Regions from separate parts of the Homo sapiens genome. Here all the other regions are linked to region 2. Evidence: fine-mapped expression QTL. A gene starts in region 2. Each other region holds a variant in brackets. All regions are shown on one strand. Distances are between the middles of the regions. Region 1 overlaps SNPH (syntaphilin). Region 2 holds the start of SNPH (syntaphilin). Region 3 overlaps SNPH (syntaphilin).

The links. PIP is the estimated chance that this variant, and not a neighbour inherited with it, causes the effect.
Region 1: its variant is the best candidate, but not a certain one, in a credible set for the expression of SNPH in whole blood (GTEx, PIP 0.77).
Region 3: its variant is the best candidate, but not a certain one, in a credible set for the expression of SNPH in skeletal muscle (GTEx, PIP 0.59).

The regions. Positions count from the first base shown.
Region 1 is chr20:1,297,597-1,308,057 of GRCh38, reverse strand. It overlaps SNPH (syntaphilin), which reads right to left. Exons shown (of 7, transcript NM_001318234.2): 6 at 7,347-7,496; 7 at 1-3,180. The coding sequence ends at 2,004. Among named protein-coding and RNA genes, the nearest start is that of SDCBP2-AS1, 23 kb to the left of the region's middle. The variant G/A (reference allele first, on the strand shown) is at 6,796.
Region 2 is chr20:1,260,225-1,270,685 of GRCh38, reverse strand. It overlaps SNPH (syntaphilin), which reads right to left and starts at 4,392. Exons shown (of 7, transcript NM_001318234.2): 1 at 4,289-4,392; 2 at 3,926-4,032. RefSeq lists silencers at 3,897-3,976, 4,077-4,156 and an enhancer at 4,557-4,706.
Region 3 is chr20:1,284,535-1,294,874 of GRCh38, reverse strand. The region is part of intron 2 of SNPH (syntaphilin); the gene reads right to left. Among named protein-coding and RNA genes, the nearest start is that of SNPH, 23 kb to the right of the region's middle. The variant C/T (reference allele first, on the strand shown) is at 3,114.

The sequences.
Region 1 (10,461 bases), 37 kb before region 2:
GAGAGATTTTATGTTGTCAAATATAGTTCATACATTTCTTTTCTCGGCAAAGCTTTGACTATGTCTGAGGAGACTACGCAGCTCCGTGAGTGCGCGGCACAGGAGGCTGGGTCCGCAGCCAGTCCCGGCTTGGCTTTGGATTGGTTTTGTCCACTGCCCCCTCCGTGGCATGGCCACAGTGTCCTGCGGGGGCAGCCCCAGCCAGGCCTCAGGCATCTGGGTTTGGTTTGGCTGGGCTGGGGCTTATTCCACAAAGGTTGGCTGGTCTGAGGCCCTGACCAAGGCGGGGGGAGCTTTGGAGGCACAAAGCGTGTGGCAGAGGGGGCTCCTGCCCCGAGGGCTGGGCCAGCCGCCCCCTCCCAGTGCATGCAGGTGCCCCGCCTCACGTGGAGGGCACCGAGCAGAAGGGCAGAGCCCATGAGTTAGGCAATGGCTGTTGGAGCATTGGGGTGAGGGCAAGCAACCTTGGCAGATAACCAGAGTGGCCCTTAGGCCAGAGGGGCGAGTAAGACACAGGGTCCCTCCAACCCCCAGAGGTGGGGCCTAGCCTCTGAAGAGTGGGTGGGACAACCAGATGGGTGTAACCCCTGTGGGGGAAAAGGAGTGAGTTTACTTGGTAAAATAATAATGGTAATGTCAGCAGCGTGGCTGGGGGACTCAGTATGGTCCCGGGAAAAGAGTTGGGGCAGTGAACTTCCCAGGCCGACTGGCCTTGGGCTGGGAGCAGGGAGGCTGCAGGGCGCCTACCTGCTCTGCCACGCCCCTGCCTAGGAAACCTATCCCAGGACACCCTGCTTTGGCCTGGATGAACATCGTGGCTTCAGTACGCGCCATCCTGCGATTCATCCTGCCAGAATACCCCACCCTCCTCCAGAGGCAGAGAGGTTTAAGGTTTAGGAACCCTCATCTCAGACAGCAAGCAGCCACCTCACTGGAGACCCTTGGATGGCTGAGAACCAACCCCAAAGTGAACATAGTGCAAAGCAGAAGTTGGGCCCGAGGGCCCCAGAGAAACTCGGGGCAAGTTTCTGGGGGCAGTCATGGCCTCTGGCTTTTTCAGTAAGCTGTGGGTTCCTGAGTCCAGCCCTGCCTCCCAGCCTGCAGATGAGATGGCCTCACCTTGGAAGGCTGGGGGAGCCCCCTTGGGTTTCTGCCCCTGCCTCCTCTTCTTGTGCTGGTGGATTCTCCAGCTGGGAGCTGGGACTCAGGCAGGCCCTCCTACCCCAGCACTGAGCTTGCCGGGCTTAGCTACCTCACAGGAATAATGACTGACACACCCAGAAGTGCCAAGAGGAAAGGGATGACGGGAAAGCCTGGGATGAACAGACAGACACAGAACCCACACTGCCCTCCGCCACCTTGCGCCCAGCCCCGTCTCTCCTCCAGCCTGTGGCCTTGACTGAGCTCCTGAGTCCCAAGGTGGGCAGCAGTCTGGGGAGGCTGGAATGCCGGCCGGCCCAGTGGTTCTGGCCTCTGCTCTGAGCCCTGGGTCAGTGATCTGCACTTCAGGCCATGGCTGCCTCCATTTGAGGAGAGAGCACTGGCCCAGGAGCCTGGGCTGCGGGCAAGGTGGCTTGGAAGAGACGGCATGGAGTGCGCAGGGCACTGGACAGGATGGTGCAGGGCAGGGGCCTATGGGCAACTCAAGCCCGGCTTCCCCACATGAAGACAGCCAGAGACTTCCTGAGCAGGGCTGGCCCTGTCTGAAGAGCCAAGGGGACAGAGGGGCCGGGTTGGCCCTCGCTCCCTCCCCTCCCTGCAATTTGTCCAGCTGGTGTACCTCCTGCCTTGGGTCCCCCTTCCCTGCTCTCCATCGAAGCTTTGGGATGCCTTTCTCCAACCCCTGCTCCTTCCACGGGACTGTTTTAACATCTTGAAAAAAAGAAACAGTTCCACACCCAAAACTAAATAAATAAGATGATGCCCATGGGAGAAGGGAGGGGGGAACGGCATCCCTACAATCAGTGGTCAGGCCGCAGGCGCCGCTGCCAGAATGGGCCCCCTCAGAGCTGGGAGCCGCCGCCCGCTGGGCTGGGACTCGGCTGGCTCAGCGAGCGGCAGCTGATCCTGCGGATGGAGTGCAAGGCCACAGTGCAGCAGCCCCGCAGCAGGGAGCTGATGTTGTAGATGGGCTGGCCCTGGCGCCGCTGGGAGCGGCAAAGCCAGGCCACCGTGGGCACGGCCGGCACCACCACAGCCAGCAGATCCACGATGTAGTGGCGGCTCCAGTAGCTCTTGGGCTCCTTCTCAGCCACGGCAGCCTCCTCCTCCTCTTCCATGGGGCACACCACGCTCACCGACTGGCCAGGGTTGGGGTTGGCACCAGGCCGCTGTGGGGTGGGTCCACGGGTGATGGGCTCTGGGGCCTCTAGCTCATCACCCACTGTCACCACCACTGCTGAGTTGGGGTCTCTGGGCCCTGAAGGGTGGGCATCCAGCTCTGGGCACCTGTCCCCTGACTCAGGGTCTGTCCCACAGACCTGGGCCTGGGTCACTTTCTCCAGGATGGTGTCAAGGTCAGGCTGGTACTGCACGAAGTCTGTCTGGATGGCACGCTCCTGCATGCAGCTGGCCTGCACACCAGCCTCCATGCCACACAGCAGCTTCTCATAGGTGTTGCTGGCAGGGAAGCGGGGGCCCAGGCCGAAGGAGCTGTGCAGCGAGGTCTCCTCGGTGCCACAGTCCACCCCCGACGACAGCAGGCTGCTGGCTTCCAGCGCGTCCGTCCGGCTCAGTGTGTCATCGGCTGCTGCAAAGCCACTGTCTGCCCCATCCTCAGCAGAGCCGCTGGAGGGATCACCCGGCTGGCGGTCACCACAGACAGCCGGGTCACTCAGCTTGGTGTAGGTGGAGCTGCGGGTGAGGGAGCGGGCAGGGGACCCACCGGCTGACTCCCCAGTGCCATCCTCCTTGGCCATGCCATTCTGGGCCACCTCCATGCTGTGCAGCAGCGTCTCCAGCTTCTTGTTCTGGATGTTGATGTCCACGAAGTACTTCTGCAGCCCCTTGTCCTTGTCAATCAGGTTGTTCTTGACAGTGTCGATGACCTGCTTGAGCTGCTTGATCTCCTTTCGGGCCTCCTTCAGGGCCAGCTGGGCCTCCACGCGGTGGCACTCCTCCTCAATCCAGTCCTCCTGCATGCGTGACAGCTGCGTCTTCAGGTCATCAATCTCTGTGTCCCTGCGAGCCGAGGAGACACACACACGCTCACTGCCTGCCTGCCTGGTCTGTCACCGCCAAGGAGAGGCAGGGAGAGGACACTGTTGCCAAGGATGAAGGGCCCTGTGCTGCTGTGGCTCAGAACCCAAAACAGAAGGACAAACTCAATGCCTTCTTATTATAGTGGGGAGTGAGAGTGGCTGGGGAGAGGGGCTGAGGGGTGAAGACAGGAGAAGCCTCTGCCTGGAGAGAGAAGAAAGGTTGGGAGGAGACACCACTCGCATTCCCTCCCCCACCCCACCACCCCCAGAATGCCGACAACTCTCAACATTCAAATCCATCATCTAGAGAAGAGACTAGACAACAAAGATGCTCATAAGTTTTATAGCTACTGCTATAAAAACCTAATAAAATCTTAATGTGAAACAACAAAAACTAGGCAGGAAATCTCTGCTCTATAGAAAGTGATGTAGCCTCCTACTACCTACTAAAGCAGGTTGCAGAAAGTTTCAGTGGAGGAATATTTGGCCAGAGACCCCAGGGGAGAGAAATGACAGCTTTCAATGTTGGGGGAGGCTGATGATTTTACATCATCCCTCATGCAGAGCGATGAGAAGTGGTGGGTGGAACGGGAGAGTGATAAGAACAGGGTGGCTCTCATCTATCCATGCTAGAAGCTTCTTTGTATCTTTGTATCTCCTTGTATCTTGTATCTTAAAGAGGAAAAGCTGAAAAGATCAACGAGAAAGGCATAGAGTTACTCCTGAGCGACGGGGGCAAGCACCAGGTGAACAAGATAGTCGGCAGACTCTTGTCCAGAAATGCTCAGGCTTTTCAAATTCCCGAGTCACAGATGAATCCAGGGGTGCAAGGGGAGGGAGGTAAGTTAGAAAAATATGCCATCAGGTCTAGAGGTAAAACCAGAGTGAGACAGAATGGCGACTGATTAACACCAGTGAGGAAGAAGGAAAATCATCCAGGAGACGTCAAACCCTGTCCTGGGCATTTTCGCTCACTTCCTAGTGGCAGCCCACATGAGCCCCCTCAGCCTAAACCCTACATTCCCATCCGTAAAATCTACAAATGCCGTGCCTGTCACTCTGGGGTTCATCAGCCCAGCAGAATGACCGTCCCAGATCAAGCACCATATACTTTTCAAAGCCAGATCAGAATTTTCCTTCAGGAAATGGGCCCAGGAATCTCATTCCACAATACGCTGGAGGGACTGGGGGCTGAGGGGATGCAGTGGCCATAAAGGTCAGCAATGGTGTCACCTAGAAGGGGCCCATCCACCCATCAGGACACAGCTGGAGCTGCTTAGAGTGCCAATAACAGACAAGGCAACAGGTACTGAGGGGCAGGAGATACTTGGCCTTCACCCTTCCTGCCTCCAGGTGGGGGGCCCACTCTAGGTAACCCTTTTGGCCTCTCACCCTGCTCCTCACTCACACCTCACCCTGGGAGAAAGAGTGAGTTTGAAAGAAGGAACTGGGCATGATCTGCTCAGCCAGTCTCTGCCTCTCTCTCCTTGGGGCCCAGCCAAACCCCAGGGAGCCATGGCTTCGAGCCCTGTCCACGCCTCAGTGGGCATCACATCTGAAGTGCGTCTTGAAGGGTAAGTCTGCCCAGGGAGCAAGATAGAAGGCAGGGCATCTCAAGTAGTGGGGACACAGATACGAAAGCACAGAGGTGCAAAAGCCATGGTGTCTTTGAGGAACAGAAGGTGGGCCACTGCAGGAAGCACAGGCATGAAACTCCATATGGAGAGAGTGTGGGGAGAGTGACAGTATTTCATGTAAAGACCTGCAATGGGTTCCTGTGGGAGTAACAGGCAGACAGTGACCAGGGAGTCAAGGTGTTAGCACACCTACACCAGGGCATCCTGCCCAAACCACACAGGGCAGATGGTCTGCTCTAAGCCATGGGGCTGGCCCTAGAAATGAAGCTGGGAGATGGGCCATCTGCTCCCTGAGGCATTAGTGCAAAAGGCCACGCAGATCCTGGGCATCATTGGGAAGATGAGGGAAAATAAAAATAGAAATCCTCCCTCTGCCGACAATGAAGCTCGCTGAATGCTACCCGTAACCGCCTGTAGTTTAAAACCACAACAAATCCAAACCGGATTGGCTGCTTGGCAGAGCTGTGGTCAAGAACGATGTGGTCATGCATACAGCGTGATCCCATTTATATGAAATGTCCAGAATAGACAAATCCATAGAGACAGAAAAATCAGTGGTTGCCAGGGACTATGGTGGTTGGAGAGAAACTGGCGGTGATTGCTAATGGGAATGGGGTTTATTTTGAGGTGATAGAAATATTGATGAAATTAGAAATTGGCGGTGATTGCTAATGGGAATGGGGTTTATTTTGAGGTGATAGAAATATTGATGAAATTAGAAATTGGCGGTGATTGCTAATGGGAATGGGGTTTATTTTGAGGTGATAGAAATATTGATGAAATTAGAAATTGGCGGTGATTGCTAATGGGAATGGGGTTTATTTTGAGGTGATAGAAATATTGATGAAATTAGAAACTGGCGGTGATTGCTAATGGGAATGGGGTTTATTTTGAGGTGATAGAAATATTGATGAAATTAGAAATTGGCGGTGATTGCTAATGGGAATGGGGTTTATTTTGAGGTGATAGAAATATTGATGAAATTAGAAACTGGCGGTGATTGCTAATGGGAATGGGGTTTATTTTGAGGTGATAGAAATATTGATGAAATTAGAAACTGGCGGTGATTGCTAATGGGAATGGGGTTTATTTTGAGGTGATAGAAATATTGATGAAATTAGAAATTGGCGGTGATTGCTAATGGGAATGGGGTTTATTTTGAGGTGATAGAAATATTGATGAAATTAGAAATTGGCGGTGATTGCTAATGGGAATGGGGTTTATTTTGAGGTGATAGAAATATTGATGAAATTAGAAATTGGCGGTGATTGCTAATGGGAATGGGGTTTATTTTGAGGTGATAGAAATATTGATGAAATTAGAAATTGGCGGTGATTGCTAATGGGAATGGGGTTTATTTTGAGGTGATAGAAATATTGATGAAATTAGAAATTGGCGGTGATTGCTAATGGGAATGGGGTTTATTTTGAGGTGATAGAAATATTGATGAAATTAGAAATTGGCGGTGATTGCTAATGGGAATGGGGTTTATTTTGAGGTGATAGAAATATTGATGAAATTAGAAATTGGCGGTGATTGCTAATGGGAATGGGGTTTATTTTGAGGTGATAGAAATATTTATGAAATTAGATAGTGGTAATGGTTGCAAAATTCTGTGACTAAACTAACAATCATCTAATTGTACACTTTTGATAGGTGAATTATATGGTATGTAAGTTACATTGCAATAAAGCTGCTGTATTAAAAAAAAAAAAGAAAGAAAAGAAAAAAGGAGCGATCATCGTGCCTGCTCTGAGCTCCAGCCCCACACAGCACCTTGGCCAGCTCACAATAGGCTGCATGTTTGCATAGACACAGTCCCGAGAAGGATAGTTAAGACAATGGGAGATCGACGCCCTGAAGTGTAGATCACAAAGATGAAGCCACTGGGCTTGGAGGGTAGAAGCTGGGAGGGTTGGGATTAAGCACTTGAGAATGAGCTCAGACGGCCTGCGGGG[G/A]CTCCTGGGAGACACCTGGGCTGGGGAGGAGCTCAGCAAAAGGCTTCTCATCATCATCCTCCACAGCAGGAAGTAGATGGCTTCTGGGGCCTGAAGTCGAGGTTGGCCACAAGCCCTCTGGTGACTCACTCAGGAGGAAGCGAGGAAGGATAAAGAGTTGTTTCTCCCCCAAAAGAGGCAAGTAAGTCAGAAAGAAGCCCTGTGCTCCAACTCCTGGAAGATGGGAGCCAGAGGAAAAGAAGCAGCCAAAGGAGCTGCCAGGCTGAAGCTGGGAAAGGACAGCACAGGCAGGAGGCCCCACAGGACAGGCCCTCATGGGAAACTGCTCCCGCCTGGCCCCCAACAGCCTCGTGGAGCAGTCAAGGTGAGTAGCTGCTGGGGATGAGGGTCTGCAAGTGGGCTCAAATGAGGCTTTGCTGGGAAGGAGAGAGCAGACGGATGCTGGGAGACCCCCAGCCACTCCTCCCTCCAAGAGGCACCCCAGAGCCCTGGTTTCCCTGAGTGTGGAGCTGGTGGGGTACCCCCAGGGCTGCTCGTGGCCACCCGCTCACCGGTCCTGGAGCCGGTCCTGTGTGTCCTTCAGCCGGGCTTTCAGGTGCCGGATGCACACCTCCTTCTGCTGCAGGGGGGTCAGGTACTGCTCCGGGGTCGGGGGCTTGATGCCATGGTTGTCACTGCACAGCGTGTATTTCATGGAGCGCCTGCAAGGGGACGCCCATCATCAGGGAGGGAGGAAGAGGTCAGGCAAGGCACAGGTGCTTTACCTCTGGGGAGCAAGGGGACACCAGCCTCACCATCCCTGGCCACCAGATGCTCCAAGCCAGGCCTCCCACACAAGGCAGGAGAACCCCCAGCCTTCTGGAAGGTGGGTTTTAGTAGAGTTCCTCTAAGTGAAGACCATCATGTCAGGAAGCGGGCTTCAGGGCTCCTCTAGTTAGGGCTGGGTGGGGAGATATATCCCAGAGCATATGTGTAAACCTGGAACCAGGCCAAGCACTTGACCAACGCCATCAATCCTTATAGCAGCCCTGAAGTAGGGACTGTCTTCATCTTTTAGAGGGGCCGCTGGCCTCAGAGAGGTTAGCTCTTGCCCCGAGCCCCTCAGACAATCCCGGTAGTGTGCCCCAGAACCCAGGTACCTCGTCTTCCAACCTGGAGAATGAGTTTGAAGGCTGGAAACTGAGGTGTAAGTGGCAGATGCTGGGTCTGCATGGCAGACAAGGACTCACCCCCACACAGCAGGATACATCTCCCAGGTGGAGGCAGAAGCTCTCCTCTCTAGAGCTGAGACCCCTCACAGCCTGGGGACAGGGAGGGCAGACACGCGCAGGCACAGCTGTCTCCATATACGCCCTGGCACTCTCACTCCTCACCCCCACTGCGTACACGTGGGTGAGCACTACATGCACGCACACTTCCTGGGATGTCAATTCCCAGTCCATTCACACCTGCATGCCCACATACATGGAGACACACTTGTGCCTCGCAGGTACTCACACATACTAGGGCACCAGCCCAGGCACATGTTCACACTTTCACCTCCGGGGGCACATGGGAGCACACACGTGAACACCTGCCGGCTCTGGGCAGGGACCTGTCCACTGCAGTACTCTGGGGTGGCAGCAGGCTGGAAGTGCACTGCTCCCAGCACAGGGCGGCACTGACATGGTGCCCTACCAGGGCAAAGGAGAAGGAATTTCCACCCAGAGGGCAGTCAGGTGCCAGTGGAGGAGGGAGGGCCAGGCTTTCACGGGGAAGGAGAATGCCCCAATTCCACAACAGACTATGGCCCAGCCAGCTCTATTCTCAGTGTCCTGGCTGCTGGTTGTTTTGCTCAAACAGAAACCTTGGATCTTGGCTTAAAACCTGGGCATGTATCTCGCGACTAGAGACTCAGGCCTTGTTGCCATCCAACTCTGCTCCTTGAGGGGAGAGTGACTGGCAGGTCTAGGGAGGGGCAATGTCCCTTTATGAGCCTGGAAAAGGCAGGCCCTGGTGAGGCCCATTTGCTGAAGCAGCCGAGCTGGAGGCAATTTTAAAAGTTCCATGGAAGCTGTATGGTGTTTACCGAGGAAAAAGTACTTGTAAGTCGTAAACTGTCAAAGAGAAAGTGGTGATAGAAGTGGAATGAGAAGTGGTTTTCTTCTATGTACTCACGTCATGGCCCCTAGGTCAACTCAAGCCAAGTCACGCAGGTCTCCTCTCTGCTTGGCAAGGGGCGGAGGAGTCACCCCTTGGCAAGGGGTGGTAGGAGTGGGGGACCCAAGGTTAGCTAAACTAGTAAGGATTGAGGATTAGAGAGGAAGTAACTATTTTACATTCTTTTCATTTTGCTTTCATGAATATTTTCCCCGATATAAAATTTAACACGTGTACATTTTTAGTCACTAGCTCTTTGTAAAAAAAAAAATATGTATACACACACACACACACACACACACACACACACACACACACAAATTAGAAAAAAAATACGCTGTGACGCATGTTTCTCAGCTGTTCCTGCCTTGGAAAGCCTGGCTATTTGCAGAGGGGACCTAACTGTGGCCCCACTGCTCACCCAGGGGCAGCAACCCTTGTTGTGGGGAAGAAGACCCTTTGCTGGGAGCAATTCTCAGCCCTGGGGTTGGGATCACCTCCATGGGCTGCAGTTACGAGGTGTGTTACAAAATCTGTTACTAATAGAAAAGATTAAAGTTGCCAATTATATAGTTTTCAAAATGTAAATTAATGCTTTACTCCTATGTCCCCCAGTCTCTGGGGTGGTGTTACAGCCAGGATGCTGGGGCATGAGTCCTGCACATGGGTGTTACCCATCATGTGTGTCACGATAGAAATCTAACAGCTGCTGTTTCAGTGGCTCTGGACATCGCTTCACACAAATGACATCCTCTCCACTGAGTCCTCCCAGGAGGTGCTCCAGCCATGGGAGCCACAGGCTGGGCATCTCCTGGCCTTAAGTCAGATCAAAGCTCTAACAACAGGAGGTATCAGTTATTGGCCAACTAGGATGCACAGGCGGTGTGTAGATATCAAGTCACCGAAGCTTCCGAGTTATTAGCTCCACTTTAAAGAAAGGAAATGGAGGCTCAAGACAGGAAGAGACCAAATCCAGAGCCTATGCTCGTTCCCTACACGCCCCAACCTCCCACTTGTATTTCAATGCTGGGGAAGCAGGACAAGGCCTACCATGACAGCTCTTCCTTCCTGGTCTTCAAGGACCTACAGCTCCCCTACACCTGCTTCTCCAACATGATCCTGCTTTGTGAGTCCGAGTTCACCTCACTCAAGACTACAACTTGGCATCTGCTGCATTCGTAACATTTCGCCTTCCAAGCCAGTTCCACCTCTGCCACTCTCAAAGTGTTCCCCTGAGAAGTGCATGATGGTAGACACTGCAGGCTGCTTCCCAATACTCATCTTGCTTTCTTCCTAGCGGAACCCCCATTTTGTCTGGGGTGGTACTGTTGTGGGGAAGACACTAACTGGCCCTGCAGCTAGAGTTATTCACATGACCCAGTTCTGGCCAGCAAGAACTGGCAGGATTTGGGGGCAAGCTGTCCCTCTCAGAAAAACAATCTCTGAGAAGGGCTTTGGTCCTTTCCACCTGTTCCTTCCTGGAGGGCAGGCCTGATGCCTGGAGGTACAGAAGCCACCTGTGATGAC
Region 2 (10,461 bases):
TGCTTCTAGAAGGCTTTAAGGACAGGAAAGGTTCTGGTCTACCTGGGACAAACAGATAGTTCCATCAAAATTGTGTTACAGCGTGAGCTTGGATAGTCCCCTAGACTCCATGTCCACCTTCTAGATTGATGAGGACAGGAGCCAACAAGTCTTTAGGGCTGTTTGGAAACATTCTAAATCGAGTAGAACCCTTTACTATTATTATTAAATTATTATTCACAAGCTCAATGCCAAAAATAGAGATGACAATGGCATCATCTCTCTAAAGCCTTCCTGACCCACTCAGTAGGAAAGATCATTCCCCTCTCTCTGTCCCCCCACCCCATCACACACATATCAGTATGTCTTATAGCTTCCAGATGTTTTCTCATATCTACACGTTTAGGTGTCTGTCTCCCTCTGTTAGATATGAGCTTCTTGAAACTAGGACTCACAATTTACTCTTTCCTGCATGCTATGCACTTAGCCCAGGGCCTAGCTAATAAATAAGGACAAATGCTGGTCAATGTTTAGCAAGTTAAGGAATCCCCTCCACCTCCAATACTGGAACAAGGGTGCATGTAGGCCTTTCGGAGCCAGTAGATGCATGCAGATCATTTGAGGGATGGGAACTCTTGGAGGGAAACTGGCTGACCCAAGGTTATTCAGTTATTGAGAGGGCTCAGACTAAAAGCAACCCTTTGGACACCCAGTCCAGTGCACTTCCAGCTAAACATTTTCTAGGTTCTATGATACACTGGTTGTACGACTCTGGGTAAGACCCTTCGCCTCTCTGCCCTGGCTTTCTCACTTATAAAAATGGGTAAATTTATATATAGTGCCTACATAATGGGATGATCTGAGCAGTAAATTATTGAACCTGTGTAAAACAGAGCACAACACATAAGAAGACTAAAAAAGTGTGTCTGTCCTGACTGTCATTCAGGCCTAACCATTATCCTCGGTAAAGGGGCATCCACCAAACATCAGCAAAGCAGGGCTCACGGTGAAAGGAAAACTCTCCATTCCTGGTTCACACAGTTTTCAACCAGGAAGTACCCTGCACCAATCACCTGGGAGAAATGCCTGATCTCTCACCGTAAATTGTTCACAGCTTCTTCTTCTCCAAACCCCTGTTCCCACCTGCAAGTGCACACACAGCTCACAGCATCAGCAAGGTATGCATGAAGAGGCAGCGAAACCTTTGGAAGGGGACGATGCAGACAGACCTGGTGTCGGATAGCAGTTCTAGCCGCGCAACCCTCAGCAAGTCACTTAGTCTCTCCAAGCCTCAGTCTCCCCATCTTTGAAATGGTCATAATTTTCTTTAAGGATTACCTGAGACAGTTAATGGTCTGGGACTTCATAAATGACGTTGAGGGTAATCATAGTTGTCTGATTTTTATTTAACAAAATCCACTCGACAGAATGTCAGAAGCAGAAGGGGTCTTAGAAATCACTTAGTCCAGTCCCATCATTATATAGATGGGCACACAGAGGCCTTGAGGGGAGGCCTGACTGGCCCAAGGTCACATAATAAGGCAGTGGTTCAATGGGACATGGGACCTGGGTCTCCTGACTTTCTACTGCATATCCATGTTGTCCCACTTGATTCTAATTACCTGCTCTCCTCCCTCAAACACAGAAAATGGCTAGAATCATTCCCTTCCCAATCCTCCTCCCTTCACAGTCATCTCACACCAGCTGGCACCATCTGGATCCCTTTTTGCCAACATCACCACCCTCCCAGGCACATCTGGCCCCTTTTGGTCTAGTCAGGAGCCCTAGAGGAGTAGGCGAAGCATCTGTTAATCACCAACAATAGCAATAATAACAGTAGCTGTAATAGCAATAATAATGACAACCAACAACCTGGACGATGTCCTACACTAAAAAGGGCTTTCACCTACATAATCAACACATTCCTACAGTTTCTCCCTAACCTAGTTGGCTTAGGGACATAATTTCCTCAAGTTTGTTTCATTCAACACTTACGGAGCACCTACTTTGGGCCTACTCATGGGCCAGAGGCTGGAGATAGAGAAAGGAAAATGATAGGGCCTCTGCCAAATAGGAATTTAGGGTGGGGGTGGGGGGACATGACAACTTCTTTTGGCCCAAATGGTGCAGCAGCAAAATTCCCCACCCAACCCTATGGAGAACCTCCTTTATCATGCTGTCAAAAGGCAGGAGGTATCTGGAATAAAGAGGAGCGAGAAAGGCTTGAGTGCTAGGCTGAAAATGACAGCAGGAAGGAAGATAAAGAATCGAAAATACAAGCACCAAAAACTTGACTGCCTGGCCTCAGGGTGACTCTAGGGAGACACTCCAGGGAGGGCAAGAGAGCCACAGTGGGATTCATGTGAGATCCGGAAGACCTGATCCCTGCCCTGCTGCCAGCACACAAGAATCTGCTGCTTCTGTTCCCTCAGAGACTCCGCCCTTGGATGCCAGGATTTTCCAAACCCAATGCTGGGCTACAGTCCTCCTTGGGACCATCATTTGCTAGAATGATGTCACAACCTTTGCAGTGGAAATGTTGCTGCCTGCCTAGGCCCTCAGCCTGGTGACCCAATACACTTCAGCATTCATTACCCCTGGCAGGGACACCATCTGCAGGGGTGTGGAAGAGACAGGCAGGGGATGGGGAGGAGAACAGGACTAAAAGCAGTCACCTCTTCCTCTCTTCCCCCAGCCTATCTCCCAAGTCCTGAGTTCCTGAGAACCTACTATGTGCCAGGCACAGGCACTATTTTAGGTGCTTCCACATACATCTCATTTAATTTTCACATCAGCCCTCTGCGGGCTGTACCCCTAGATTTACAGATGGAGAAACTGAGGCTGGGGGAAGGGAAGTCACTTGGCAGCTCAGGGATGTCAACATAGGACTGTCTGGCACCTCCAGCTCCTTGAGGCCCACAAGGTCAATGTTTCACTTAAGAAGTCAGAGTTGAAAGAGATCAACTGAGGAAACCCCAATTATTTCATGAAACTAAATTTAAATTGCCTTAGCAGAGGGGTCCCCCTGACATGTAAAAGCTGCTTGAGTGATATACTAAAATTATACACATCATTTAATCCAATTCCTGCATCTAACAGATGAGCAGACAGACACCCACGCCTAGAGAATTTTAAAATGGCTACTTGTGGCCAACTAGCAAGTTAAGGGCCTAGAACCCCAATCTCTGGCACTTTCCTTACACGACTCTGCCTGCAGAGATCACCTTTTTCTAAGAAGCTCCTCCAGCCCATCCCGACACCACCAGATGGGCAGAGAAGGCAGAGGAAACGGGCAGCATGTGACCGGCCTCTCTTTCAGTCTGCAGGGTTGGGGAAGGGAATATGGGGCTCCCCAGGCTAGTAGGTGTTGCAAACAGCCCAGATCCCGGCTGGGGAGTGGAAGGCTTCACATCCCAGGGAAGCTCCGGGGAGACGGAGGCTCAGATCGTCCACTCTAGGACTTATGGGCATTTTTTCCCCAGATCTACTGCAGGGCCCTGATGCTTCTCAGAGGGAAAGATGGGATGGAAGCAGTCATTGGCACTTGACCTTGGGGTGGGGGTGGGGTCTCATCCTTCTCCCACCCCCAGGTACCCCTGCTCCTCCTCCAAGAAGGAAAAGAGAAGCTTAAATGTTTGCCAAATGCCAGAAGGGGAAGACAAATAAAATTGGGGGGTGGGTTCCCTAAAAGCCTCCTAATCACCCACTTTGGGCATCTTCTCTGCTGCAATCAGCACCCTCTAATTCTTACATTTCAGGGAGGGGGAGGGAGGGAAGCGCTTAAAGGGATGTAGGGGAATGAAGGGAGGGTAAGAATGAGTCACGATTAACCCCTCTTAGGCTGGTGCCCTCCAAGGGATTCTACCGCAGCGAGCGGTTGCAAGCGGCCCCCACCTGCCGCGGTGCAGCGCAGGGCCAGCTCCCCGCTCCGCCGCGGCCTCCTCACCTGAGTCCACTGGCCCTCCGCAGCCCCGCCGGCTCGCACCACTCCGGCCCGGCTTGGCGCAGCGCCTCTGCAGTCGCTGCTGCAGCCGCCTGGCCCTGATCAGCGACCTGCGGGGTTAGGAAAAAGAGATAGACCGGGGCGGGTGAGCGCGGGCGGGGAACACCCAGGCAGCTGAGCCCCCGGCCGCTGACAGCTGGGCCGCTGCAGCCAGAAGGCTTGGAGGGCAGGCTGCCTGCCGGGTGCTCCGTCCCCTCCTCCTCGCGGCCCGCGGCCCCCACCCCACCCCCTGGCACTCGGCACTCTGGACTGCGGCGGGTGCAGCTGGGCGGTGGGCCCGGAGATCCCCGGGGTCCTTGTCATCACCTGCGGAGGCTTCCATGGCTTCAGCTGCCCTGCAGGGGCCGCCGAATTGCTCTCCCGAGCCCCTGCAGGAGGCGGCTAGCTGGGTGCTCGCCGGGGCTGGGGCTGCCGGGAGGGAGGGGCGGGGAGGGTGAGGTGGATGGAGGGGACCAGCCAGTCGGCGGCTCGCCGGCAGCTGCGTAAGCGGCCCGTCTTTACTTTCCTTCTTAAAGAGATAGTTAGTATCTTGCTCTAGAGGGCCTGGGAACAGAGACAACGAGCACACGGGGAGCGGCGGCCTCTCCCACCTACACACCAGCCGGTATTTTGAGCTGGGCGATCGATTGGGCGTGGTGGAAAGCGTCTTGGTCGGCTGTGTGACCCTGTGCAAGTCCCTTCACCTCTCTGGGCCTCAGCTTTTTCTTCTCTAACATGGGGTGATGATACCAGTCTCACTCCCTGGCACATAGTTGGCTCTAGTGAAATAGTAATTTTTATCTAAAAGCCTTTAGGAACATTTTTCATTGCCCAAACCAAGTCTGAGTACCAGGGGTATTTAATGTGAATGACAAGCACTTGGGCTACTAACAATGATAGCAGGAATCTTAAGTGTCTGAAAATGGAAATGTTTTCCTCTTAAGTAGTAAAAAGGTGAATCATTGGAAAGATCTCGGAGAGATAAACAATCACAACTTAAAATGTTAATTGTGGCTCTTTTCCCTCTGTCTTCCATCTGTCACAGGGAAAACAAGAAGACCAAAAAGTCCAAAAAACTGGATTTTCTGCCTAGCCCTTCCATTTCTAGCCATACAACTTTAGATAAGTTAACTCACTTTCTGGGCTTGGTTTCTTATCTGCTTCATGTGTGGGAAGTAGGTGGAGTGGGAATGGGCTCCTTCTTTCTGAACCAGGCCTGTCTGATCTGTCATTACTCTGCTCTAAACCATCCAGTGGTTTTCTGTATCGCTCTCCGCCACATGCCCTCATCTTACTCCAGCTCTCTGACTTCATCTTGCGTGGCTCTCCCCATCACTCACTTTTCTCCCATCAAGCTGTCCTTCTTGCTGAGGCCTCACTGCTGGGCCTTTGCATTTGCTGTCCCCTTTGCCTAGAACACACCAGAGAGCCACATGGTTCAATCCTTCCTTTCCTCCAGGTCTCTGCTCAAATGTTACTGTCTCAGAGAGGGCTTCCTTAACCATTCTACATAAAATACTAACTCCCTCCTCTCCACCTCCTTTGCCCCTAGTTTTGCTACACTTAATTACCAGCTGACATAGTGTATATTTACTATGTGTCATTTATCACTCCCACTAGAATGTACACTTCATGAGGGAAGGAACTTTGTTTTTTTCCCTTGCTGTATTTCCAGTGCCCAGAGCAGTGCCTAACACATAGTAGGAGCTCAATAAATATTGACTAAGTGAATGAGAAAGCAAGCACACATTGTGCCAGGCCCCAGTCTTCTATGGGAACACTAGGCCAGATGCCATCCTGGAAGTCCTTTTGTCTTAAGTCTCTTAAGGCTCTTAAGTCCTTAAGTCTGTTTACTCTCGCCGGTGCTGAACTTGGTACCCTCTACTCTCTGCCCCAAGCTGACTTTTCCAAGAGAAGAATTTGTAAAGTGACTTCACTGATTTACATCATGACTCTGCAGTACTGGCCTGGTGAGAAACAGTTAATATTGATAATGTACATGAAAAAATAATTATTTTAAGTTTACTGTTGCTTTTCACAGTCAAATCTTTTCCTGTATCTCTGAGCTGCAATAAATCCATTACTTTTTTTGCAACAAATGCTAATAAATTTTGGAGAGGACATTGATTCTATTTTCTCCTGTATTCCGTTAAACCATATCCTATCAGATAGCCATTATTATATTATGTTTTCTAGAAAAACATGGCAGAGCAATTTAGCAGGAATAGGAAACTAGTTGAAAAAGCCATGTGAAATGTTGAGGTCTTCTGTCCAAAACACCTAATGCTATATTAGCAAGTTAATTGATAAAATGTTTTATCTGCTCTAATGCTCACTGAAATTATATAAGTGACATTTTTACACTTAAAAGTGAAACCAAAGGAAGCCATGTAATTATTACATGTTTAGAAGGAGAACATTTCTGAGATTGTCATTAAAATATTTTTTTGTCTGTTCCCATGCTGTTTTGTTTATTAATAGAGATGGGGCTTTACTATGTCGCCCAGGCTGGTCTCCAACTCCTGGGCTTAAGCAATCCTCAGCCTCCCAAAGTGCTGGGATTACAGGCTTGAGCCACCATGCCTGGCTGTCCCATCCTCATGTGTGTATGTGTGTGGGGTTTTGTGTGGGGGTTTTTTTGGGTTTTTTTTTTTTTTTGCTTGGTACTTAGAAGACTACATTTCCCAGAAATCTCCACAAGGAACTTCCCCAAAGCAAGACAGTGACTTCACTCACATTACTCCCATCTGGAATGGTGTTAGCTAGTAAAGTATTCTCTTTATCATCAGGAAGCAGATGATTGAGAAGAGAACTGGTGTTTAGTTATAATGTAAATTGCAACAAATGAGGATTATAAGTATAAAACAAAATTATTCCTAATAAATTAGTAATTTTGTTTTGTTTTGGACTAGTTGAAAATACATTAAAAATTTTTTTAGTTTCAAAAACAATTGTATTCCAATTCTGGCTAAGCATACTCTCCCACAGAATGCAGCAATAAAACCTGAACAAAATGCATGTAGCAGCTATTTGAGGATTCTGAAGACAAAATACTAGCAGGCACACTGGGGAAGAAGCCAGAATTTGATATACCCTACCACTGAACTAGTGGTGAATTTATCATCTTTATTTCTTCCTATAACTCCTGTCCTGGTCTCAAGGCAGATCAAAATCTGGAATTGGGGCTCAATAAAGAGAAAGCTCCCAAAGAATCTCCCTAGTTTTGACTTGAAGATCAGGAAAAGGGACTTCTGATGCGCAGAGTATGTGGGAGATATCATTGTTCTTTTCCTTTCAAATCTTTTCTCCATTGTCTCATGACCCAGGCCCTAGGCCATCCTGCAGTGGTGTCTGTGACAGCAGGAACCCACAGGTGCCTAAAACTCTGAGGGAGGAGAAACTTCTTCAATAAAAGTAGCTGTAGTCCTGAGGGAGGGTGAGCCCCTGTTGTTGTTTTTTTGTCACTGTCCTCCTACCTCCTGGTCCCAGATGCAAGTTCAACTGTGGAAAGTAGGCAGCAAAGTGGAACAGAGTAAATAAAGCTCCAAACTCCAGCATTCTGGTGAACCCCAGAGAGAATAAATCAAATGATGATAATGATAATAATAATAGTTTTCAGTTACTGCTGAAAATTAAAAACAAAACAAGATCTTTAAAGCAGTCAGAGAAAAATGATGCATTAATAATACAGGAATAGGCTGGATGCAGTGGCTCACACTTGTAATCCCTGCACTTTGGGAGGCCAAGAGGCAGATTGCTTGAGCCCAGGAGTTTGAGACCAGCTTGGGCAACACGGCGAGACCCCACCTCTATAAAAAATACAAAAATCAGCTGTGTGTAGTGGCGTTTGCCTGTAGTCCCAGCTACTCGGGAGACTGAGGTGGGAGGATTGCTGGAGCCCGGGAGGTCGAGGTTGCAGTGAGCTATGACTGACTGTACCACTGCACTGTAGCCTGGGTGACAGAGCAAGATCCTGTGTCAAAAAAAAAAAAAAAATACAGGAATAATAATTTAAATAACTGTTGATTTCTTATCAGAAACCATGGAGGGCAGAAGAAAACAGAACAATTTTTTTTAATTGCTTAAAGAAAAGAGTTGTCAACCAGGATTTTGTACCCAGCAAAAATATCCTTCAGAAATGAAAGTGAAATAAACACATTCTCCAATTAAGGAAAATGAAGATAATCCATTGCCAGCACACTTGCTCTAAAAGAACTACTGAATTAAGTTCTTCAGACAAAAGGGACATTACATTAGAAAGAAATTTGGAACATCAAGAAGGAAGGAGAACAAAAATGGTAAATATTTGAGTAAATGTAATAGGCTATTCTTCTCTTGATCTTTTAAAACATGTTTGACAGTGGAAAGCAACAATTGTTGATGGGGGTTCAATGTGTGTAGATAAGACTAGTACAATATAAAGGAGGAGTATGTATATTCCTTTACAATATAAAGGGACCTATATGGTGTAAGATTTTTACACTCCTCTTGAAGTGGTAAAATATCAATTCTAAGTAGAGCATGAAAAGTTAAGTATGTATTTTGTAACCCCTAGAATAGCTATTTTTAAAATCTATGACAAAAAATATAGTAAAAAAAAAAAAAAAAAAACACCATAGGCCGGGTGCACTGGCTCATGCCTGTAATCCTGGCACTTTGGGAGGTAGAGGTGGGTGGATCACTTGAGGCCAGGAGTTCAAGATGAGCCTGTCCAACAGGTCTCTATTAAAAATATAAAACTTGGTCTGTACTAAAAATACAAAAATTAGCTGAGTGGGGTGGTTGTATACCTGTAATCTCAGCTACTCAGGAGGCTGAGGCATGGGAATTGCTTGAATCCAGGAGGGAGAGGTTGCAGTGAGCTAAGACTGCACCTCTGTACTCCAGCCTGGGCAACAGAGTGAGACTCTGTCAAAAAAAAAAAAAAAGAAGAAGAAGAAATAAAAATGGAATTCCAAATATTCCAAAAGAAGACAAGAAAGGGGAAAACAGAGGAATAAAAAATAAAGGGAACAAACAGTAAAAAAAATAAAATAAAATCCAAAAATCCTAAATAAATAAAATCTGAAATCCAAAAATGTCAATAATTACATTAAATATAAGTGATCTAAACACTTCAATTAAAACAGAGGTTATCCGAATGGATAAAAAAATGACTTTATTTGATGCAGTCTATAAGAAATTCACTTTAACTATAATGAATGATATAGGTAGGCTAAAAGTAAAAGATAAAAAAAGATATACCATACAAATACTTATCAAAGGAAAGCTGGAATAACTATATTAATATTAGAAAAAGTAGACTACAGAGCAAAAAATATTACCAGGAATAAAGAGAATTATTATAAAATAATAAAAGGGTCATTTCACCAAGAAGATGTAATAATTATAAATGTATATAACCTAATAAAAGAACTTCAAAATATATAAAGCAAAAACTGACAGAATGGAAAAGAGAAATAAACAGATCCACAATTATAGCTGGAGACACAAACACTTTTTCTCAGTAATTGATAGAACTAGTAGACAAAATAAACAAGGATGTAGAAGAACTAAACAACACTATGAACTAACTAGGTCCAACTGACATTTATAGAACACTCCACCTAACAAATGCAGAACAGAATTGATCCTTGAACAACACAGCTTTGAACTGTGTGTGTCCATTTCCATGTGGATTTTCTTCTGACTCTGCCATCTCCGAGACAGCAACACTAACTCCTCTTCCTCCTTCTCCTCCTCAGCCTACTCAGTGTGAAGACCATGAAGATGAAGACCTTTATGTTGATCCACTTCCACTTAATGAATAGAAAATATATTTATCTTCCTTATGATTTTCTTAATAACATTTTCTTTTCTCTAGCTTGCTTTATTGTAAGAATATAGTATATAATACATATACAACACATGTGCTAATTGACTGTTTATGTTATAGGTAAGACTTCTGGTCAACAGTAGGCTATTAGTAGTTAAGTTTTTGGGGAGTCAAAATGTATACACAAATTTTCAACTTAGTATAGGGTCATAAAATAAATCTTAATGAATCTGAAATAATTGAAATCATTTAAAGTATGTTCTCTTACCATAATGGAATTAAACTCAAAATCAATTACTGGAAATATCCCTTCGAAACTGAACATCCTATACCTCCAAATAATTTGCAGGTAAAAGACCTGCAAGTCTCAAGGGAAATTAGAAAATATTTTTAACAGAACAAAAGTGAAGATACAACGTATAAGTATCTGTGTGATGCAGCTAAAGCAGTGCCAAGAAGGAAACAGAGCTTTATGTGTTTATATTAGAAAAGAGGGAAGATCTCAAACCAGTTACCTAGAAGGAAACAGAGCTTTATGTGTTTATATTAGAAAAGAGGAAAGACCCCAAATCAGTTACCTAGAAGGAAACAGAGCTTTATGTGTTTATATTAGAAAAGAGGGAAGATCTCAAATCAGTTGCCTAGAAGGAAACAGAGCTTTATGTGTTTATATTAGAAAAGAGGG
Region 3 (10,340 bases), 24 kb before region 2:
GTCACATCCCAGGTGTGTGGCAGAGCCAATATCGAAACCAGGTCAACATCAGATGCTGAGGGGCTGGATCTCAAACCCCAGAGTCTCTGGCCCGGGGACCACCCCCTTCCCATGTCAGGGCCTCCCCGGAGCCTGGTCATCCCAGCCAGCGGCGGGGCTGCCTCCTGAGTGGACAAAGGCACTACTCAGATGGCCTGTTTCCTGGCGGGGACATAGAACACAGCCTGTTCCCCTGGAGGGTCTGGACACAGCCAGCATTGTCTGCCTGGAGGTGTCGGGTGCTGGGCTGCAGGACCTGCCGACACCACACCTGTCACCTGAGCTTCTTGCCCCAGCTTGGCAATGCTTCCCACTCATTATGCCCCAGTCACCCAGGCAGGGCCTCCTGGAACTGTAGGGCTGGCCCCTAGAGCAGGAACCATGGAGGAGGGGCGATTTGGGGGTAAGAGGACATCAGTGCTCCTCCATGCTTGTGAGGATGGCCATAAATGGCTCACTGCCTCCTGGGCACAGGAGGATCTTGACCAGGAACAGCTTAGGGTGCAGAGGGGCACATGGGCAAGGGCTCCAAGGATCACCTGCCATTGCCTGAATCCTTCAGTGGTAAGGTGGCCATGCTGAGTGCTCTCGTCTGCCTTGGCCCATTACTTGAAGCAGCAATCCTTCAAGGCCGGCTTTGTTACTGCATTTGGGCCCAAGGTCACACAGCTGCAGGTGTGACATGCTCTGGCTTCTGGCCCAGGTCGGCCTGGCTTCACCAACAACTTTCCCACCATCATCCCTGCCCTTCTGGCTTTTGGGAGGATGCAAAAAGGAGGCTGAGCCTTCAGGAGGACTTTCCAGCAGAGGCAGGACTCAGATCTGAGGATGGGCTCTTCCAAGCCAGTGTGAGTGAGTGTTCTAAGGAGCCAGGAAAGTCCAGGCAGAGTGCTAGGCCCAGTCCTGGGAGGCAGGCAAAATGCCTGGTTTGTCTTGGAGCTGCGTGTGGCCTTGCTACAATGAGGGCCTTGTCCCAGCTGTCCCTGCCACTATCTTGCTTGGCTACCCCACACCTGCCTCCTCTTGAGTTCCCTCTTCCTTCCTCCCTGGCCTGGGGGAGGGAAGGGGGTGGCACTTGTACCTGCGTATAGCTAACAGTCTCCTGGGCACCCAGAGCCAGGTATTCATTAGGGACAAAGGTGGAAGACGCATTTCCCCTGCTGGGATGGGACCTTGCAGGCAGGGTCCCTCATGGGAGGGCAGAAGCCACCCAGGCCCAAAGGGAGCCACCTCTCAGGATCCTACTCAGAAAACTCAGTGTGCATCCTGTGCTCTCTCAGGTCCTCCCTCCCTTCTAGGCCCTAGCAAGGAGGCAGGTTGCCATGGTGTTTGTCACCATGCCACCTGCTTAGCCTGGAGTCCCGCAGGCCTCTCCCCAGGTGGCCAGAGGCTGCCACTTGGAAAGGAAGGTAGAAAGAAAACCCTTAACTGTGGGAAGCTGGGCTGATAGTCTCTCATCACTTTAACCCCAGAGTAAACCCAGCCCCTGCCCTCACTGAACTTCCCTCCACTTCCCCATCTTGTCCACACCATAGCAACCCTGCTGCATCCACTCCTTTGACTGCTCCCTCAAATGCTCAACACTTCCTAACCCCCCCGACAATGGGGGTCCAGGGAGCATGAGACTAATGACTGCAGAAGTCAATATGAACTGATCTGGGCTCAAATGCCAGCTCTGGCACCCTTCAGCTGCATGCCTTGGGCAAGTCACCCACTTCTCTGAGCCTCACTGCCCATATCTGTAATAACTGGGGCTCTAATGAATGCACCTCATATGGTTACTGTGAGAATAACATAAAATAATGTGAGTATGGGGCTTAGGTCAGTGCCTATCACACAATAAACACTAAAACATGGGGGCAGCCAGTATTTTGGAAGTAACATGAAGTGAGCTTCAAAACAGAAACACATTCAAGCCATAATAGTGTCTTCAGGAGGATCCAGGAACGCTTCTCTACACAAGAAATTTGCACTGGGTCTTGAGGGATGAATAAGAGTTCACCAGGTGGCAGCAGAAAATGGGAGGGAAGGAGAAGTCTGGACACAGGCAGTGAGTGACAGCTGGCTGCTCAGAAACTAGGGAGCCTGTTGAGGGCAGAAGTACAGTGGGAGTGAGGCTGCAGAAGGAGGGGGGCAGGCCACACAGAGCCACTTAAGCCAGGATCTTGTCCTGTGGGCAACAGGAAGCCATGCAAGTGCTTTATAGGAAAGGGGCACAATCATATTTGCATTTTAGAAAGTTCCTGATAAGGAGCCTGTGTGGAGAGGGAGGGATACCAGATACCAGTTAGGAGGTTACCAACCAGGGGAGAAATTAGGAGGGCCTGGGCCAGGGTCATGGCAGGAACAATGGAGAAAAGGGCCTGGACCCTGTTCAAAATTCCTTGGAAGTCCCAGATTAGGTAAAAATCAGAGCAAAGCTCTTGATGTGGGTGCTTAAGGCCCTCTCATCTACAACCTTTCCAACTGGCTCTCTGATACATCCAGGAGACCTCGGCTAGTCACTCCCAAATCTGCATCTCTACATGGGCTGTTTGTCCCATCTGCAGCATCTTCCCTGCCTGTCCTCAGGCATACATTGCACTCTTTCTTTAGGTCCCACCCACAGCCTTTCCACCAGTGACTTCTCCTATCACTTACTGTCTTGACCACTTAGGATGCTATGCCTTAGACTAAAACTCAGGGAACACCATCCCCTGGGAAACTTCATAAAAACAAACACAATCAACACACAACTGTTGGTAATACAATGGTTTAAACAAGCACATTGAATAGACCAAAGAGTCAGATTAGATGGTCTCTAAGGTGCTCTGGATCTAACATTCTCTAATTCTAGAGCTGTCAATGAAATTATGGGCTTCTAATTGATGCTTCTTTCTCCTTCATTACTAGGACTTTCGGGTCTCAGTTTCCACATATGTAAAATTAGGAAGCTCCATTCTTCAAAGAGACATGATAGCATTTTCCCCAATCAACAGTCATGGGGGAAAAACCAGGTGCTTGGGTTAATCTAATATTCCAGCTAAGCAAAAGTCCCTGTATGTACTATAATTTATCTTCTTTCAAAGAATTAG[C/T]CATTGATACAAGAAGAAAGCTATCCTAAAATCCGAGGGAACAGAACAATCTGTGTCTGATGACTCAAACCACTGACAGCTGTGGAAAGCAGAGCATTGCAATCAACAGAGCAGAACTTGGGAGGGATCCTCTCTTTGCCAAGGTAACACTAGAACGCAGAACATTCCACCCATCAGACAGCAGAGTGCCTGGTGCTCCTAGAATGCTAATGCAGAGAGGTGGGAATAGAAGACAGGCCTGGGAGTGTTCCAGCAGCCACACTCTAGATCTCAGAAGATTAGCACTACCAGGGCTATTCACAGCTGAGGAGTTCAGTAAACCCTGCACTGGCTATGGCCTCATCAGCCACTATGTGCCTCTGCTCCTCCTTTGTCAACAAAACCTAGGATCTTCCTTCCAGGACTTGCTGGCATTTCTCCAGCTTGCTTCCTGTTTCCCACACAAGCCACCCTCAAAGCTGGGACCACACATGAGGCGCCATCCGACTTCTTCTCACTGTTGTGGCAACCCCAACACAGCGGCAAGGCAGACCCACAACTTGGCCAAATGCTGTGAGAAGCTTCCCCAGGCAACCAGCATAGGTTGAGGGCTGAGGCAGCTGCTACACAGGATGTGTCTCCAGTGATTAGACTCAGATTCCAGAGCTGAAGGGCATCAAGCCTAGGTCTTCAAACCACCCAAGAGGACTTGCCTCTGCACCTACTGGGAGGGGTGGCTTGGGCCTCCTCCCCCATTTCACCTGAAGAGGCTCCTCTCGTATGTGTTTTACATATGGAAGGTGTGAAGTAAGACTACTTTTTAAAAAGGATTTTTCAGGTTAAAAATCTATGGAATACTTATTTTCCACAATGAGATATTGTTTCACATTCACTAGGATGGCTAGCATAAAAAAGATGGACAATAACAAGCGTTGTCAAGGATGTGGAGAAGTTGGAACTCTCATGTATTGCTGGTGGGGATGTAAAATGACGCTGCTGCTATGGAAAACAGTTTGGTGGTTCCTCGAAAAGTTAAACATAGAATTGCCATAAGAACCAGCAATTCCACTGCTAGGTATATACCCCAAAGAATGGAAAATAGATGCTCAAACAAAAACTTGTATAAGAAGTGTACTTCACAGTAGCACTATTCTTAATAGCTAAGAGGTGGAAATAACCCAAATGTCCACCAATAGAAGAATGGATAAACAAAATGTGATGCGTCTATGCAATGGAATATTTAGCTATAAAAGGAATGAAGTATTACTGATCCATGCTACAACACAGATGAACCTTGACAACATTATGCTAAATGAAAGAAGCCAGATACGAAAGGCCGCATATTGCATGATTCCATTTATATGAAATATCCAGCACAGGCAAATGCACACAGACAGAAAACACACTGGAAGGGAAGAAGGAACAGGGAATGACTGGTAATGGGAATGGAGTTTCTTTTTTGGGAAGATAAAAAACGTTTTAGAAGTAGCTAGTGGTGATGGTTATATAATTTTGTGAGTATCCTAAAATCCCTGAATTGTACATTTTAAAAACTTAATTTTTTTTTTTTTGAGACAGAGTCTCACTGTGTCGCCCAGGCTAGAGTGCAGTGGCACGATCTCAGCTCACTGCAACCTCCGCCTCCCGGGTTCAAGTGATTCTCATGACTCACCCTATCGAGTAGCTGGGATTACAGGCACGCACAACCACACCTGGCTAATTTTTGTATATTTTAGTAGAGATGGGGTTTCTCCATATTGGCCAGGTTGGTCTTGAACCCCTGGCCTCAAGCAATCCACCCACCTTGGCCTCCCTGCTCCCAAAGTGCTGGGATTACAGGTGTGAGCCACTGCATCTGGCTATTAAAAGGATAAATTTTATGGAATGTAAATTATATCTCAATAAAAAACAAATTTTTAAAAATACATGTGATATATATTTAATTTTTTTTTAGAGCCAGGGTCTTACTCTGTCACCTAGGCTTGGAGTGCAGTGACAAAATCATAGCTCACTGCAGCCTCAAACTCCTGAGCTCATGCGATCCTTCTGCCTCAGCCTTTCCAGTAGCCACCTCACCTGGCTAATCTATTTTTTACTTTTTTTAAAGGTGGGGTCTCACTATGTTGCTCTTGGTGGTCTCAATCTCCTGGCCTCAAGCCATCCACCAGCGTCACCTCCTGAGTTGCTGGGATTACAGGTGTGAGCCACCATGCCCCTGACTCCATTGTGTGTGTGTGTGTGTGTGTGTGTGTGTGTGTGTGTGTGTGTGTATTTAAATGAACCGTTGCATTAATAAAAAGACAGGCATGGTCCAGAAAGGGGTAGAGACTCTTCCAGAATGGCTCAGCAAGTTGCAGCAGAAGGGGAGCAAGAGCCAGTGCCCCCCCTCTACCTGACTTCAGGTAGCTGGGCCCAGGATGCTTCCCTAGACTTTGGGTCAGCCTGGAGGAGACTGGTAGCTGAGGCTGCCCCTAAAGCTCTTGCATATTCACAACTTCGTTGAATCCTCACACAAATTCCCCATAGAGGGAGGCCAGGTAGAGACTAGTCCATCTGATCTATGGGAAACCTGAAGCCTCAGAGGTTACAAGAGTCACCAAGGGCTGGACCCTGGATTTCCAGGTCATGGGCACCTGCATTTCTACTGCATCATGAAGGTCTCATAATACAGTAGACCTGGGACACTTATCATTCTGCTGCATAAAAGAAAAAACCTACTTTTCCATGAGACTCTAAGATACCACAATGGAGATGAGCAGGTATATACCTGCATTTTGGGCTGGTCATACTTCCATAAAAGCAGGGCATCACAGACATAAGAGGTAAGCATACTACAGAGAGTCGTTTAAAAAGAAATTCTTGGCCAGACACGGTGGCTCACACCTGTAATCCCAGCACTTTGGGAGGCCGAGGTGGGCGGATCACCTGAGGTCAGGATTTCAAGACCAGCCTGGCCAACATGGCAAAAACCTGTCTCTATTAAAAATAGAAAAATTAGCTGGACGAGGTGGTGGGTGCCTGTAATCTCAGTTACTCGGGATGCTGAGACAGGAGAATATCTTGAGCCTGGGAGGCAGAGGTTGTAGTCAGCCGAGATCACGACATTGCACTCCAGCCTGGGCGACAGAGTGGAGACTCCATCTCAAAAAAAAAAAGAAAAAAAGAAAAAGAAATTCCTCATGTGCCTTCTCCCTAACTAGTGACTTTCCCTGTTCCTCTAAGAATCAGCCTCGCAGGCAAAGGAGAAGCCCTTTCCATGAGGAGCACTGCTCTTTCCTCTTCCAACAACTGCTGCGTCCCACCCAGCAGCCCAGCTGCTGTGCAAGCCCACCACTGAGAGACCCTCAGCTCCTCTGAGCCATATCACATCGTCCATCTTGGTGACCTTGGGTCTTTGACCTCTGTTCGTCTCAGCTGTCTCATGCATTCACTCAGGAAGGCGCCACCTTCCTGGCCCTGCTGTCTCTTTGGGATCCAACCAAGGTAATGAATGGAGGGATGGGGGTAGTTCTTGGGAAATTAGAGGACTGAACATTTCTTGCTATCACTATTACCTGTCGAAGGAGATCTCTCTTTTTCCCTTCTTCAGAAATAATTCTTGCTTTATCACCTCAGCGGACATCAGCAGGCCCAGGCATGAGTGACTCTGAAATGACTGGCAAACTCTGCTAGGCCAAGTGACCTGGGCTGGCTTTCCAGGGCAATGTCTGGCAGGCCTCCCGTCTGGGTAGGGAGTAGTAGGGGGAACACTGGTTCCCATGCTTCCACCATCCCAGCTGCTCCACGGCTGCCCCTCTGCAGACACCCATGGAGAAATGTGAGGAACGGAGGGGCAGTGGTGCCAGCCCCAGCTTGGTGGCTGCCTGGCTAGTGGCTCCTGGCAGATGGAGGCCCTTCAGCAACCTTGGCCACAGCATATGCTTCCCTGGGCTTCCTGACTGATAGAGCTGTCAAGCCTCAGTCCGGCTTCTCTCCCTTCCCCCTTCTCCCAAGCTTCCAACTCTAAAGCATCACAGGATGAGGAAAATGGTGAGACTTCCATCCCTAAAAATTCTCATTTTTTCCAGATTTCTGCCTTGATTCTTTGGATCCTGGATGTAAGATTAGGTAAATGCCTAATCCCCTGGCATTTACCCCAGGTACCAACAGGGACTAACACACTCTCAGAATCAGAATGGAAAGGATCTGGAGTAGACCTCATCACAACCTATCATTCTATAGAGAAAGAAACTGAAACCCAGAAAAAGCATGTTAGTTGCCTGAGGTTACCCAGAAAGTCAGGGACAGAGCCTGGGCTTGGGGCTAGACTCCTGAATCTATCAGTGAAGCTTCTGTACCACAACCCTTGCCCTCACCAGGGCAAAAATTAAGAAAAAAAAAAGAACAAAGGGAACCTTTTCAAGTAAAGAAATCTTGGAAGGAAGGCCTACGGGTATGACAGGAGAAGTCCTGACCATTTTAAGGCAGCTCATAAATGACATGCAATAAAATATGCATTGAAACAGAGGCCCAGGGAAGAAGGGAATATCCATGCTGACCACAAATACATGGTGGCAATAATGACATTGAGATTCAATTCCAAGCTTCCTGGCCACTGATGCCAAAAGGGAAAGTATGCTCAGTCTTATTGTTCTCATGGTTATGGGAGGGCAGGAAGAAAATTGGTTCTTTGGGAGAAATAAAGATCTCCCTAAAAGGAATGTTAAAAGGAACACTTTTGCATGGGGTTGGCTGCAGGGCAAGATGATGGTCCACTGGGAGTCGGCAAAGTGGGTCCCAAGGAAAGATGGTGCCCTCAGAGCTCCCCAAAGTTGCCCTGTGTGTGCTGTGCTTTGCTCATGTCAGACTGAAGAACACATGGAACACACAGACCAAAGGACTAAAGGGATGTGGAGATGTCATCTGCTCTGCCTGCGACGACAGCCCCTTTCCACAGACAAAGCCCCCACCCAGCCTGAGATCAGAGAGCTTCCTCGTTCCTGGTAATACAAAACAAGAAACCACATAAAACCACTCACGCTGTCTCTTGCACTTGCATTCTCTCCCTGTCACTTGTGCACACACACTCTCTCTTGCTCTCCTGGCATTTCATGACAATCGAGTCCCAACTGCCACATTTTCTAGATAGAAAAGTGAAGACTTGCCAAAGGCCACAATGGAGCCATAGAAGCAGGGCCAGCTCATTCTAATCCCACCAACAGTTCCAGGCATGCCGCTCCTGTTGGAAGCCAAGGTTCATCTATCTTCCTGCAGCTCCCAGGGGCTCAGCAGGGAGACATGGAGCCCAGCGCACCCAACTGTGCCTGTTTTAGCCCAGGAGCCTATCTCACAGCAGCTCCTTCATCTCTCCTCCCAGCTCCCTTCTCCCTCTCCAGCTGCAGCTGCCCTGCTGTCCTCAGCAGCTGATCCCTGTCCACCTGATTCCCCGTGGTACTTCCCATGCCATGCTGAATTCTTTCACCTTCAATAAGATCCAGGGCCTCAACAATGCCCAGTGTGGCTCACACTTGCTGGAAGAGGGTGGGTGATTAATAAATGCCTCTCCTAATAAGTTTTCCTTCTCTGGAGAAGCTGCCCTACCTCTTAATTTAGCCAAAGTGAAGCATTCTAAAATGTTTTAAAAGGGAGATTCTACAAACTACTATGTCCTATTTTAAAGGCCCTTTATCTTTTTTTTTTTTTTTTTTTTTTTTAAGATGGAGTCTCGCTCTGTCGCTCAGGCTAGAGTGCAGTGGCGCAATCTCGGCTCACTGCAACCTCCGCCTCCAGGGTTCAAGCAATTCTCCTGCCTCAGCCAGTAGCTGGGACTACAGGTGCCTGCCACCACCCCTGGCTAATTTTTGTATTTTTAGTAGAGACGGGGTTTCACCATATTGGCCAGGATGGTCTCAAACTCCTGACCTTGTGATCCACCTGCCTTGGCCTCCCAAAGTGCTGGGATTACAGGCATGAGCCACTGCACCCGGCCACCCTTTATCTATCTCAGAACGAGTTTTCCCCTTTTGCTGACAGGCAGACTAACCCGACAGAAAGAAACCACGGCTTGAACATCAAATGTAACTGAATTTTAGATCCAATATGACTGGATTTGGAACTCTGAATTCCAAACTCCACCACCCACCATCTTTATGACAGTGGGAATGCCACTTTACTCCTCTAAGCCTCATTCTCCTTATCTCTCAAATGGGGCTAATTACAGTTGTGCATGAGTATAATCACAATGAGCAATAACACGTGTGAAATGCCTAGCAAGGACCTGGCATAGGGACAGCACTCCGTAAATAGCAGTAATTATTTATTCGCCTGAATATATTCTTATTCTCAATGTTATTCATGTATATTACATCTTTCTCCCTGTCCAAAATCTTAATCTGAAATACTATACTCGTTTGTATCTGAGAGGTTCCTGACTACAGATTCATTTTATGCTTTCTTAAGTCTACTTGCAAAAAAAGAAAAGGAAAGAAAAACCCTAAACCGGTCATTGTCTACCAAACAACAGGATTTCAGGACACCGCCACTTTGGTCTAACAGAGTATCTCAAAATTAACACATCCAAAATATGAATTTCTGATTTTGCCTTAAAAATCTGTTTTTCTGCAGCTTCCCTCATTTCAGTTAATGGCAATCCCATCATTCCAGTCGGGTAGGCCAACACTCTCACGTCTATCAGAAAAGCCTGTCAGCTTTTATTCCCTGCACAGTGTATGCATTTTACAGATAAGGAAACTGAGGCGACACAGTCACAGAATCTGACACCTTTCGGCATCTTCACTGCTCCATCCCTGGTCCAAGCCACCATCTCTCTCCTGGATGATGCAGGTCTCATTATCTCCTACAAACTCTGCCCAGCAGCCAAAGGGATCCTTTTAGAACACAAATTGGATCAGGTCATTCCTCTACTCAAAACCCCTCCAACGGTCCTTCCTTTCAATAGAGGCTAAAGCCTTTTCTTCGGCTGATGTAAAGTTCTGTGCATCCCTCCCCTGACCCCCGCTTATCTCTTTGACCTCATCACCTCTCCCCCTCATTCACTCTGCTCTAGCCACCCTGCCTTCTTGCACATCCCCTCATCAGGGCCTCTGCACATGCTGTTCCTTCTGCCTGGAATGCTCTTCTCCCAGATCTCTGCCCCGTGTATTCTCTCTCCTGCTTCAGGTCTTTGCTCCAAGGTCACCCTCTCAGTGAATCTTCTCTGACCACTGTGTTTAAAATACAACCCCTCCTCCTACAGCACTCCTCTTTCTT